2 linked regions of the Homo sapiens genome follow. The protein of the gene in region 2 interacts with the protein of the main gene of each other region in a pairwise test. Each region holds a gene or a part of one and is shown on either strand. Other genes may lie near its edges.

Region 1 (3,877 bases), on a different chromosome or scaffold from region 2:
TACTTGGGAGGCTGTGGCAGGAGAATCGCTTGAACCCAGAAGGCGGAGGTTGCAGTGAGCCGAGATCACGCCACTGCACTCCAGCCTGGGTGACACAGTGACTCCGTCTCAAGAAAACAACAACTGTGTAGCTTTAGGGAATGTCTGAAGTCCCATGATTGTCACCATCAGTGTGTGTCTCACTACAAACTCAAAAAGCTAGGGAGAAGAGAATGAAATAGGGTGCATATAGGGCCAGAGAAGATGTGAAGGGAGAACACCAGAAGTTCCATTCCAGCAAAAGGGCTGCATACGGCCGCTGGATAGATGCCAAGTGATTAATGTCAAGCCATATTAATGTCAGAGAGGAGAATTTGGTGAAAGCTTTGCCTGGCTAGATCTCAGGCTGGAAATCACTAGATTCCTTTATTTTATTTCCCCCTAATCCTTTATAACTTCCTCTAATGCCTTAGTCAAGCTTAAGACCATCAGCCTCCAGGGAGCAAAGTGAAGCCCATCTGTTCAGTCAGGCATTTGCCAGACCAAAGTAAAAGGTCAATCTGGCTTTTCCTATAACAGCATTGAGATGACCCCAAATACTTCCCAACGGTATCAGCCAAAAACAACTTTGCATTACCGTGAATCGTGATTTCAAAGCAGAGATGTCAGGGATATCCTTTAAAACGGATAATGACTGGGCTATTGCTAGTGAGAAAAAGAAAGAAAACAATAGGCATATGTCTCTTTGGAATGTGCTTGCTCTAAAGGCTGTATAAAAATAATCCTAATCATCTTGTTTGGGGAGGAAAATCAATCAAGAATGCCTTTTTTCAAATATTTTATTTCTTTTATTATAAGACATATAGGTAAAAACTTGCATATTTTGAAAAAGATAGAAAATGGTAATAAAATGGATATTTTTCTTATTAAGAAATATGTTCATAAATATGCTTTATCAAATGTTAAAATGGTTATTTTGCAAAATAATAATAAATAGAGCAGAGCTGTGACATACAAGGGTCAACCAAAGTACTGGAAGTTTTTATGCTATATGTTTTATAAAAATTCAGACTTCTGATTATACATTAAAAATTGACATTTTGCACTACAGGGTATCAATAATTCTGATTTTAAAAATATTTTTATGATGGCTCCATGAATTCAAAAATAATAAAACATAAAAGGTGGTTTGACTAAATAGAATCTGATTCAAATAATTTCCCCCTAAATAAGAAATTGTAAGATATAATTTTTGAGCCTATAAGGGACACATGTATCAGTTCCCAATTCTATATGTCTTGGTGGGCATTGAACAAAAATTGTTTGCTAAGCCTTTGTTTCCAGCAAGGTCCACATCATTTCTTTTCACAGTTTGATGGAGCAATAATAGTCACGATTCTGATGAGCCTAGTTCTACAATTCTAGCTCCATGGATCTTAGATTCGTAGAAAGTTTTCCCTCCTTTGAAGAAACTCATTGACAGCTTTCTTATATTTGTTTATGACTCATTGGCCTCAAAGTCACATATCAGAACACTGGGAAAAATTTTTAATGATGAAAAGTTCTTGTTCTAGGCATTCTTTGTAAGCTTTACTTCTCTACTATCCAAAATAGAAGAAACACATGTGAACACCAAACACATCCTCTAAAGAGTCTTGGGTGTTCAAATAGCAAGGTCAGGCTTTTCCTGGAAATAAATACTGACTTTTTACAAAAATCTTTCATTTCCCATGCATCATGTTGCCCACAAGGCTAATACGCTAGCTCCCTGCTACAATGGGGGAAACCACATCTAACTTAAGTATTCAATCTAATATAGATTATTGGTCCCAATGGCCTTCAACAACGGCCATCAAAGGGACATCTGGGTGACCCTGGGTTCCTAGAGTACAGAGAGGTCATGGCAGGATTTGGACTTGAGCTTGAAGGCCATATTCTTGTTGTTTTTGGCCACGATCTTGCCCCAGAAGCGCCTGGCTTTCCTGGGCATGCTCTCCTTCCTTTTCTGGTAGGCCAGCCGCCGTTCATTCTTCTCCTTGCTGTCCCGCCGAAGGCGCACCTGTCGCACAATGCCCTCAAACAGCTCCTTCACGTTGTGCTGGACAGCTGCAGAGGTCTCGATGAACTTGCAGTCAAACACCACTGCACAGGCTCTCCCTTCTGGGAAGGAAAGAAAGAGGTCAGAGGGACTGCAGAGCACAGTCCCACATAGCACACAGTCAAGCTGGATGGTTCTTCGAGGTAACACTAAGTCAGCTGTATATGCAGTGGATAGAGGATGCTGCTGCGGCATGGGCCCTCCCAGGGCATGAATAGAAAATGTCTCACTGGAGGGTCCCTGGAAGTAAGGGAGATGGGCTTTAGATCTGATCCCCCATAAATTCACTGTCTGAAGGTCCCATTTCATCAAATATAGTGATATTAGTTATAACAGTAAAAGCCATACCCTTAATTTACTGCTGACTTACAATGTGCCAAGAACAAGGCTAAGTTCTTTATAAACACTGTTTTCAATGTCCACAACAATCTTGGAAAATACATTATTATCCCTGTCAAATACATGAAGAAACCGAGGGGAGTCTCCTCTGCAGGTGAAGTTCACACAGCCTGTAAGTGGCAGTGAAGCCAGGTCTGCTCAGTTCTCAAGCCCATACTCAACTCTTTCTCCTGACCCAGTTTCCAGAATTGGAAATAAGAATTCTACTGCTTAGCTTTCCTCTCTTTTAAAATAAAAATAAAAATAAAGCAATAATGAGATATCTTGGGAAAAAATTGAGAATTTTACAAATGTGTAATACAGTTAAATTATACAAGCTTTTCTGGGACAGTCTCAATTTCAAGTATTTCATTGCATTCAATGACCATGCATCAAGTTTTGGTTTGGAAAAAAAATGATTACTGTAGACAGTTGTGTCCTAGTAGGAAGACATTCCCAAACTAGTGTGTACATTGTCTTTATCAGGTGTCTTTCCTCCTGAGCAGGGCCCGGCAATGTAGTATTTTAGTTTTATAATTGTACCAGGATCAAATCTGAATTAGGCCAGTAAAATCTCAAGGGCTATAAAAGCACTTGGCTGCCCACTCAGCAGATAGAGATTTTCCCTGAGCTAAGTATGAAGAAGAATATGTGACCCCATCAGACTGATGCCTCAAATGAAATTTCAGAAGCCAGGGATGGGGAGTAGGAGAGTAGGACAGTGTTTCTAGGGCTCACAGGAACCAGAGTCAGCCAGAGTAGAATTCTTTTTCCTCAATGAAACTCTTTCTCACAGTTCCCCTAAATCAGAGTTCCCTATCCTCCTTGCATGAAGATGCTACTTTCATTTCCCTGTACTCTTGGGAATTCCAGGAAACTCCTTAAAAGCGGGAGGATTAGTATCCTGCAGGTAGACCAGATGGACAAGGGAGAACAACTAGTGTGGAGGAGACCCACTGGGACTGTAGGAGTCTGAGAAACACACCTAAAATTTCATATAGCATCTTAATGAGTTCCTAGATCCAGCCTCGTGGAAGGAGGGAAGAACCCGTGTCTGAAGGAAAACACATGTGATCCAGCGATTGTTTCTACAGTATTGGCTCTGCTCCTCTTACCTGATACAGACACTTCTCGGCACCGCACTAAGTCACTTTTGTTGCCAACCAAAATTATGGGAATGTCCTCTGTCTGCCGGGCCCTGCGGAGCTGGATTCGCAGCTCAGATGCCTTCTCGAAGCTCGCTCGGTCTGTGATTGAGTAGACAATCAGGTATGCGTCCCCGACCTGCATGCAGTGGTCATGGAGCCATTCATTTTCCCCCTAATGAAACAATAAGATCTTCTGTGAGTTCAGTTAGGCCTGGGGAATAAAGCATCAGTTTGCAAAGAAACAATATGTGTATCCTAAAGTACACTTGCTGAT
Region 2 (7,310 bases):
TTAAAACTGGCATCTTTCTCCCCAACTTTTTAAATGAAATTTTTCAAACATACAGAGTACTTAGAAGAATAGTTCAATGAATAACTGTAACCCATGACCATGTACATTAATTTGATTTGTCTATATGTATGTGTATGTTTATGTATAAATTTTTTATTTTTTTGCTAAAAATTGAAAATAAATTGACATAATGATACTCCACCTGTAAGTACTTCAGCATGTGTCTTCTAAAAATAAGGATATTAGCTGGGTATGATGACAGGCACCTGTAGTTCCAGCTACTCAGGGGACTGAGGCAGGAGGATTACCTGAGCCCAGGAGTTTGAAGCTGTAGTATGCTGTGAGCACACCTGTGAGTAGCCCTGCACTCCAGCCTGGGCAACACAGTGAGACCCTGTCTCTTAAATAAATACATACGTAAATAAAATTAAAAAATAAGGAGATTGTTCTGTATAACCCCAACACCATTATTACACCTAAGATAATTGGTGAGAAATTCTTAATATTTAGTTCATATTCAAGTTTTTCTGGTTGTCCCAAACATGAGTTCCATAGTTAACTTTTTCAAACCGGGATCCAGTCAAGGTTTATATATTACCTTTAATCATTTGATTGATAGGTCTTTGTAGTTCATTTTAATATAGAGCAGTTCTATTTTTTTTTTATTCCCACAATGTTCCTTTTTTTTCCTCAGTTGGTTTTGGTCAATTCATACACTCATGTCACCATCACCCAGATCAAGATTTGGAACACTTCCATCACCCCTCGCAATTCCCTTGTTCCCCTTTCAGGTCCATTCCAGACAGAACTGCTTTCCAGAGAGAAATAAGTATAGGAGATGATGGAAATGTTAATTAGCTTGAATTAATCATTTCACAGTGTACATACCTGTAGCAAAACATCACTTTGTACAGTGTAAATATATGTAAGTTTTGACAAAAAAGAATGGATAAATATATTGTAGTATACACATACAATAGAATACTACTCCACAATTCAAAGGTACTACTGATAGAACCAACAACATGGATGAATCTCAAGAACATGCTGAGCAAAAGAAGTCAGATACTAAATATCACATACTATGTGGCTCCAATGTGAAGTTTAAGTACTGGCAAAGTAATCCATAGTGATAGAAATCGGAATAGTGTACACACACACCCCCTCACACACACACCTACCACATTTTCTTTATCCATTCATTCGTTGATGGACACTTAGGTTGCTTCCATATCATGAGTATGGTGAATAATGCAGCAATGAATATGAGAGTGCAGATCTCTTCCATATACTAATTTCCTTTGGATACATACCCAGAAGTGAGATTGCTGGATTATATGGTAGTTCTATTTTTTAATTATTTGAGGAAATTTTTCTTTTTTTAAATTATTTGAGGAAATATGCTTTTTGTAATGGCTCTTCTAATTTACATTTCTACCAACGGTGTACAAGGGTTCCCCTTTCTCCACATTCTTTCCAACACTTACAATTTTTTGAATTTATTATAGTAGTCGTTCTAACATGTGCGAGGGCATATCTTATTATATTTTTGATTTGCATTTCCCTGATGATTAGAGATGGTAAGCACCTTTTCATACACCTGTTGGCCATTTGAGATATCTAGTCAGACCTCTTGCCCATTTTTAAAATTAGGTTTTTTGTTTTCTTGCTATTGAGTTTGGGTCCTTACATATTTTGGATATTAACCGCTTATCAGATTTTCTCCATTCTGTATGTTTACTGTTAGTGGTTTCCTTTGCTGTGTAGAAGCTTTTTACTCTGATGCTATCCATTCTCTTGTTGATGGTTGTTTGGGTTGTTGCCAGGTTATGGTTATTATTGGATAATACTATTATGAATATTCATTCTTGTAAAAATCTTTTTGTGGACATTACCTTTTGAACATACTTGGCTCGGTTACAGAATAGTTCATGTTGTATTATTGCCTGATTTTTTCTTCTTTTTGTGGTGACATTCAGTTTTTTCCCAATTACTATAAACTGGAAACTAGGTGTTATCTTTGATTGCCTGTTGAAAGTTGCAATCTCATTCTTCTCTACCCCTTCCATGCTTACTTTTTGCTGAAGTTTTGTGTTAGTGGTAATCTCATCTGTGTAATACTTTAGTAATATGAAAGTAAAAACATAGAAAGGTTTGGATGTGTCACACAACATTTTATGTTGCCCAACAGAGCCATATGACATGAGAGAAAATATATTGCTAAGAGGAAAGTGACTTTTCTCAATGAGTCTTTGGAGAATGACATAGTATGCTAAGTAACTTGTTTTTAAAGAGCATCAAAAGAATTATATTTTCCATCACTTACATTTTAAATCTTTAAAACTTTTGTCTTTGATGGGAAGAAGTATTATTGCTGCTTTATCTCTTTACCTTCTTTTTATATTTAATATTTCAATTTTTATGAGCTTATTTGGGAAAATGGAAGATATTGGAGGTAAAGTAATAGTGTCAATTTGGGATTGCATGTAATTCTCACTTCATCTCATTACCTAACTGAAACTAATGATAGCACTGTGGCAGACAGATCTGGCTTCTTTCAGTCACTACTCATCTGAATATTTATCTTTGTGATCCTTATCCAGGTTACTGTAGGTAGTGTCTCAGTCACAGTTAAGCCACAGTTGGTGGTAAATTTCGCTGGAATATAGACTTTAAAAAATTTTAACTATAAAATAGTTCAAATTTATAGAAAAAAAAAACTGAATCCTTTGATGCCCCACCCCCCATTTAACAAATGATAAATTTTACATGTTTGCTGCAGATTTTTGTTTTTAAGAAATATAATGTTGCATGTAGGTGAGGCCTCCTCTGTACCTTTTACCTCTTCCTGACCACTTTTTCCTCCCTACCTTCCTTAAAATAACTAATATCCTGAAGTTGTAGTGTATTGTTTGTTCAGATTTTTGTACTTATTACTAAGTATTTGTGTATGTCTGTGTATAACCTATGCTGTAGTTTTGTTTTTAAATTTTGCACAAATAGTATCTTACTTGTATGTATCCTTCTGCAACCTGCTTTTTCTGATTCACTGTTTTTGAGATTTTTCAGTGTTGATTCTTGCAGGTCTAGTTCATTTCCTTCATTAGTATAAAATGGTATATGTTTATATTAACAGTGATATAATTTTTGTTCCTCTCTTAATGGACTTTTTATTAAATACTAGTAGTTAATGCTTTTTATTATTCAAAACAATGTTTCAATGAATATATTTGCACATATTTCCTAGTATCATTGTGTCTGTTGTTCTCAGGGGTGTATTGTGTGCCCTAGGGAGCATTTTACAAATTGACTAGACTACTTTTGTTTGTCACAGTGGTTGGGGAGTCCTGTGGTATTAATTGTTCGGTATCCTGCATGACTTGAATGTCTCATTGAATATGTAGATGAAAAACCTGTTTATAATTACTGGAGGTTAATAACATAATAGCAGTTGATAATCAATTATCTGTTTATTTATAAACACAAAGTCTTTTTAAAAGGTTTTTAAAACGCATTTTACAGTAATGCAATTGCCATGTAAATTGAGGAAAGAGTACACTTTGTTGGGTTTGGTGCTCTGCTAAGAGTTTACTTTTTTTGGAAAATCATGGCACCAGAGGCAATGCTGCTTGTGGTGTTTGAGTTGCTAGTGTGGGATGTTTATCATCTCACGTTTGAAACTGCCCATTTCACATAGATTCTGTGTATAGGTGCAAATATATCTTCCAGTGTAGTCTTGCCCAAGCATTTACATGTTAGAAATATGTATTTTCTTATAAAGTATTTCTGTATTTTTTCAAACTTTAATTAGGATATTGGTTTATTGTTTAGTTATATGTATAGGTAAGTTGAAAATATTTTCTGTAAAAGGATGATTTTGGGTCTTATAGAATGGTGACCCAGTGCTCTAGGGAGTAGATCTAGAAATGGAACTATTGAGTCTCAGGGTATCCGGTTAGTTTCCTAGGACTGTCATAACAAATTATCACAAACGTAGTTGCTTAAAACAACAGAAATTTATTCCCTCACATTTCTGGAGGCCAGAGTACAAAATAAAAGTGTCAGCAGAACGGTGCTCCTTTCAAAAGCTTTAGGGGAGAATCTTTCCTGCCTCTTCTAGTTTTTGATGGTTCCAGGCATTCCTTGGATTGTGGCTGCTTAACTCCAATCTTGGATCCTAGAGGTTTCCTTTTCTGTGACTACCAATATCCTTTGTCCTTTAAAAGTGTATTCTTGTTTTCTTCTTCTTGTTAAATATATTTTGGATACTAAACCTTTATTGGTTATGTGTAATGGAATTTTCAAAGATCGTCTAGTTGAAGTTTATATTTTACTTTGTTTTTGCTCTTTTTAGTACTGCATGTTTTTCATTTTCTAATTTTTTCGTTTCTGGTAAACAAAGAATGCTATTGATTTTTAAAATGATTATTTTACTTGACAAACTTGTATATATTTATTGCGTTATTGATTTTTTAAATTAAGTTTTTTATGGAACTATAGCATATATTCATAAAGTACACAAATCGTAAATGTATAATCACCAATAATTAGAATATTATCAGAACCCCAGATTGCTCCATTGGGCTGTCTCCCTCCCGCCACTTCACCTACCCCTGTTCCTCTCCCAAAGGTAACCACATCTTGACTTCTCTTACAATATATTTTGAAGTTTTGAAATCTAGCTATATCTATCTATGATCTGTCTATTTTGTATGGTCTGAATTCTTTTATGTCTAACCAATTTGTGGGAGTTTATCCTTGTGGTTTATGAGGCAATAGCCCTTTTTTCCCTTCTTAAATGAATATAACACTATTTATTCTTCCTATTGTTGATGGACATTCTCATTGTTTCTAGTTTGGGGATATTACAAATTGTGCTCCTATGAGCATTCTTGTATATATCTTTGTTGCACATTTTATATTTTAATTTTGGATGCAACATTAAATAACATGAAATAACATTATTTCAATAGTTGTATTTTTTATGTGGAAAATGACGTTGTTTGAAAATAGACAGTTTTGACTTTTGCAGTACAATCCTTTGTTTTGTTTTGTTTTGTTTTGTTTGCCTTGTCTTTATGTTGATGGCTAGAATTTCTAGTATAGTGTTTAATGTTAGGGATAACAAAGTAGGTATCTTTGTCGTTTTTTCTAATTTTAAATTATGCTTCTGAAGTCTCACCATCATTAGACCAAATCCTATGAAATCGCTGATAATGGGCCATTTTTTTGGCTTAAAAAAACCTCAGCCATTTCAAATGTAGTTGAACCTAATAGAATATTGGCTGTAGGGTTTTCATTTATTGAGTTAGTGCAGTTCCCTTCTATTCTAATTTTAAAAAATCCTGAATGTTGAGTTATTTGGGATGTTTTTTTTTAATCCAGTGAAATTATTATATAATAATGCTTTCATAGTCTGTAAAAAAATGACACTTTTTGATGTTGAACTATTCCTATTCCTGTAATAAGTTCTTTTAAGTCAGGATGTACAGTTTTTACTCTATTTTGCTGGATTTGGTTGGCTAATTTTTTATTTAGGATCTTTTATTTGTATTTGTAGAGAGATTTTAGCTTTATGAGTCAACTACTTTTTTTCACTTATTTTTAAAACATTTATTTTGAAATATTTCAGACATATAGGAAGTTATAGAGTAACATTTAATGAACACCTGTGTACCCATCCAGGTGAAGCATCCTGTAAATCTCTGCCTAATAAAATCCCTTTTTCCTTCTTCTTTTTGGCCAATCGGTATCCTGAATTTTGTATTTACCACTTCTCTGCAATTTGCAATATTTTTTCTCATTGTAATATCTGCCTTTAAGGCACTTGATTTGCTTCCAGTTGCTGTTTAACTGGCATCTCAAAGCTATTGATAATGTTTTAAAATCATTTGGCTCTAAATATTTTATAATTTTTATTATGATTTCTACTTTAGCTTATGAACTATCTAGGATTTGTTTTAATTCCAAGATGCATAAGATTTACGTGTGTGTAACACTCTCCCATACTCATACTCTCCCCCCTACCTATACACATACATACCTACACATATACATATATATTATCTTTTATTGTGGTATTTTAATGAATTGCATTGGGGTCATGTATTAGGGTTCTCCAGAAAAACAGAACCAATAGGATATACTATATAGTTATTTAATAGGGAATTTATTATGGGGATTGGCTCACTTGATGACGGCTTTGCAGTCCCATGATATGCTGCCTGCAAGCTGTCTGCAAGCTGCAGAACCAGGGAAGCTTGGTGATGTAATTCAATCTGAGTACAAAGGCCTGAGAACCAGGTGTAAGTCTTGGAGTCTGAGGGGTTGAGAACCTGCAGTTCTGTTATCCCAGGGCAGGAAAAGATGGATGTCCGAGCTCAAGGAGAGAGAGCACATTTGCCCTTAATCTGACCTTTTGTTCTATCCTTGCACTCAACAGATGGTATAATCCCTGCCCACATTGGTGAGGGTGGTCTTTGTTACTCAATCTGCTGATTCAAATACTAATCTCTTATGGAAACATCCTCACAGACACACCAAGAAATAATGTTTACCAGCTACTCACGTATCCCTTAACCCAGTGAAGTAGATACATAAAATTAACCATCATAGCTAGTGAACAAGGTCTCTATGTTATTATGTTTGTTATTTCCTTTGTGTCCTGATACTTATCCAATTGTTGTAAATGCTCTCTACTTGCTTAAAATAATATATAATCTCATTTGTTGGATGTATGGCTCTATCTGTCATTATCACACCAATCTTACTTACTCTGAAATTCAATTCCATATTAAATTTTTTGTCTGCATGATCTACCCATTTGTAATGGAGAGGTATTAAAATCTTCACTATGATTATGTATTTTCACTTTATCCTTGATGTATTTCAGTACACTGTGATGTATAGAGCTGTGGATTTATTTGTTTATTCTGTTTTGCACTGGGTGTATGCTTTCCACTTCAGAATTTAAGGTTTTCTGTAGTTCTTGAAAATTCTTAGCTATCATATTATTTTTTATTTTTTGTTATTATTGTACTTTAAGTTTTAGGGTACATGTGCACAATGGGCCGGTTTGTTACATATGTATACATGTGCCATGCTGGTGTGCTGCACCCATTAACTCGTCATTTAGCATTAGGTATGTCTCCTAATGCTATCCCTCCCCGCTCCCCCCACCCCACAACAGTCCCCAGAGTGTGATGTTCCCCTTCCTGTGTCCATGTGTTCTCATTGTTCAATTCCCATCTATGAGTGAGAACATGCGGTGTTTGGTTTTTTGTCCTTGCGATAGTTTACTGAGAATGATG

Evidence for each region.
Region 1: the proteins of SPATA6 (region 2) and GEM interact in binary tests that used the Homo sapiens proteins (3 or more experiments, as listed by UniProt).

What each region holds. Positions count from the first base shown.
Region 1 is NC_000008.11:94,248,449-94,252,325, forward strand, and holds the end of GEM (GTP-binding protein GEM), read right to left. Parts: intron 3,776-3,877; coding exon 3,571-3,775; intron 2,318-3,570; coding exon of another isoform or gene 2,304-2,317; exon of another isoform or gene 2,140-2,303; coding exon 1,862-2,139; 3' UTR 805-1,861; downstream 1-804. UniProt on the Homo sapiens protein: Could be a regulatory protein, possibly participating in receptor-mediated signal transduction at the plasma membrane. Has guanine nucleotide-binding activity but undetectable intrinsic GTPase activity.
Region 2 is NC_000001.11:48,462,067-48,469,376, reverse strand, and holds part of SPATA6 (spermatogenesis-associated protein 6 isoform 1 precursor), read left to right. Parts: intron 1-7,310. UniProt on the Homo sapiens protein: Required for formation of the sperm connecting piece during spermiogenesis. Sperm connecting piece is essential for linking the developing flagellum to the head during late spermiogenesis.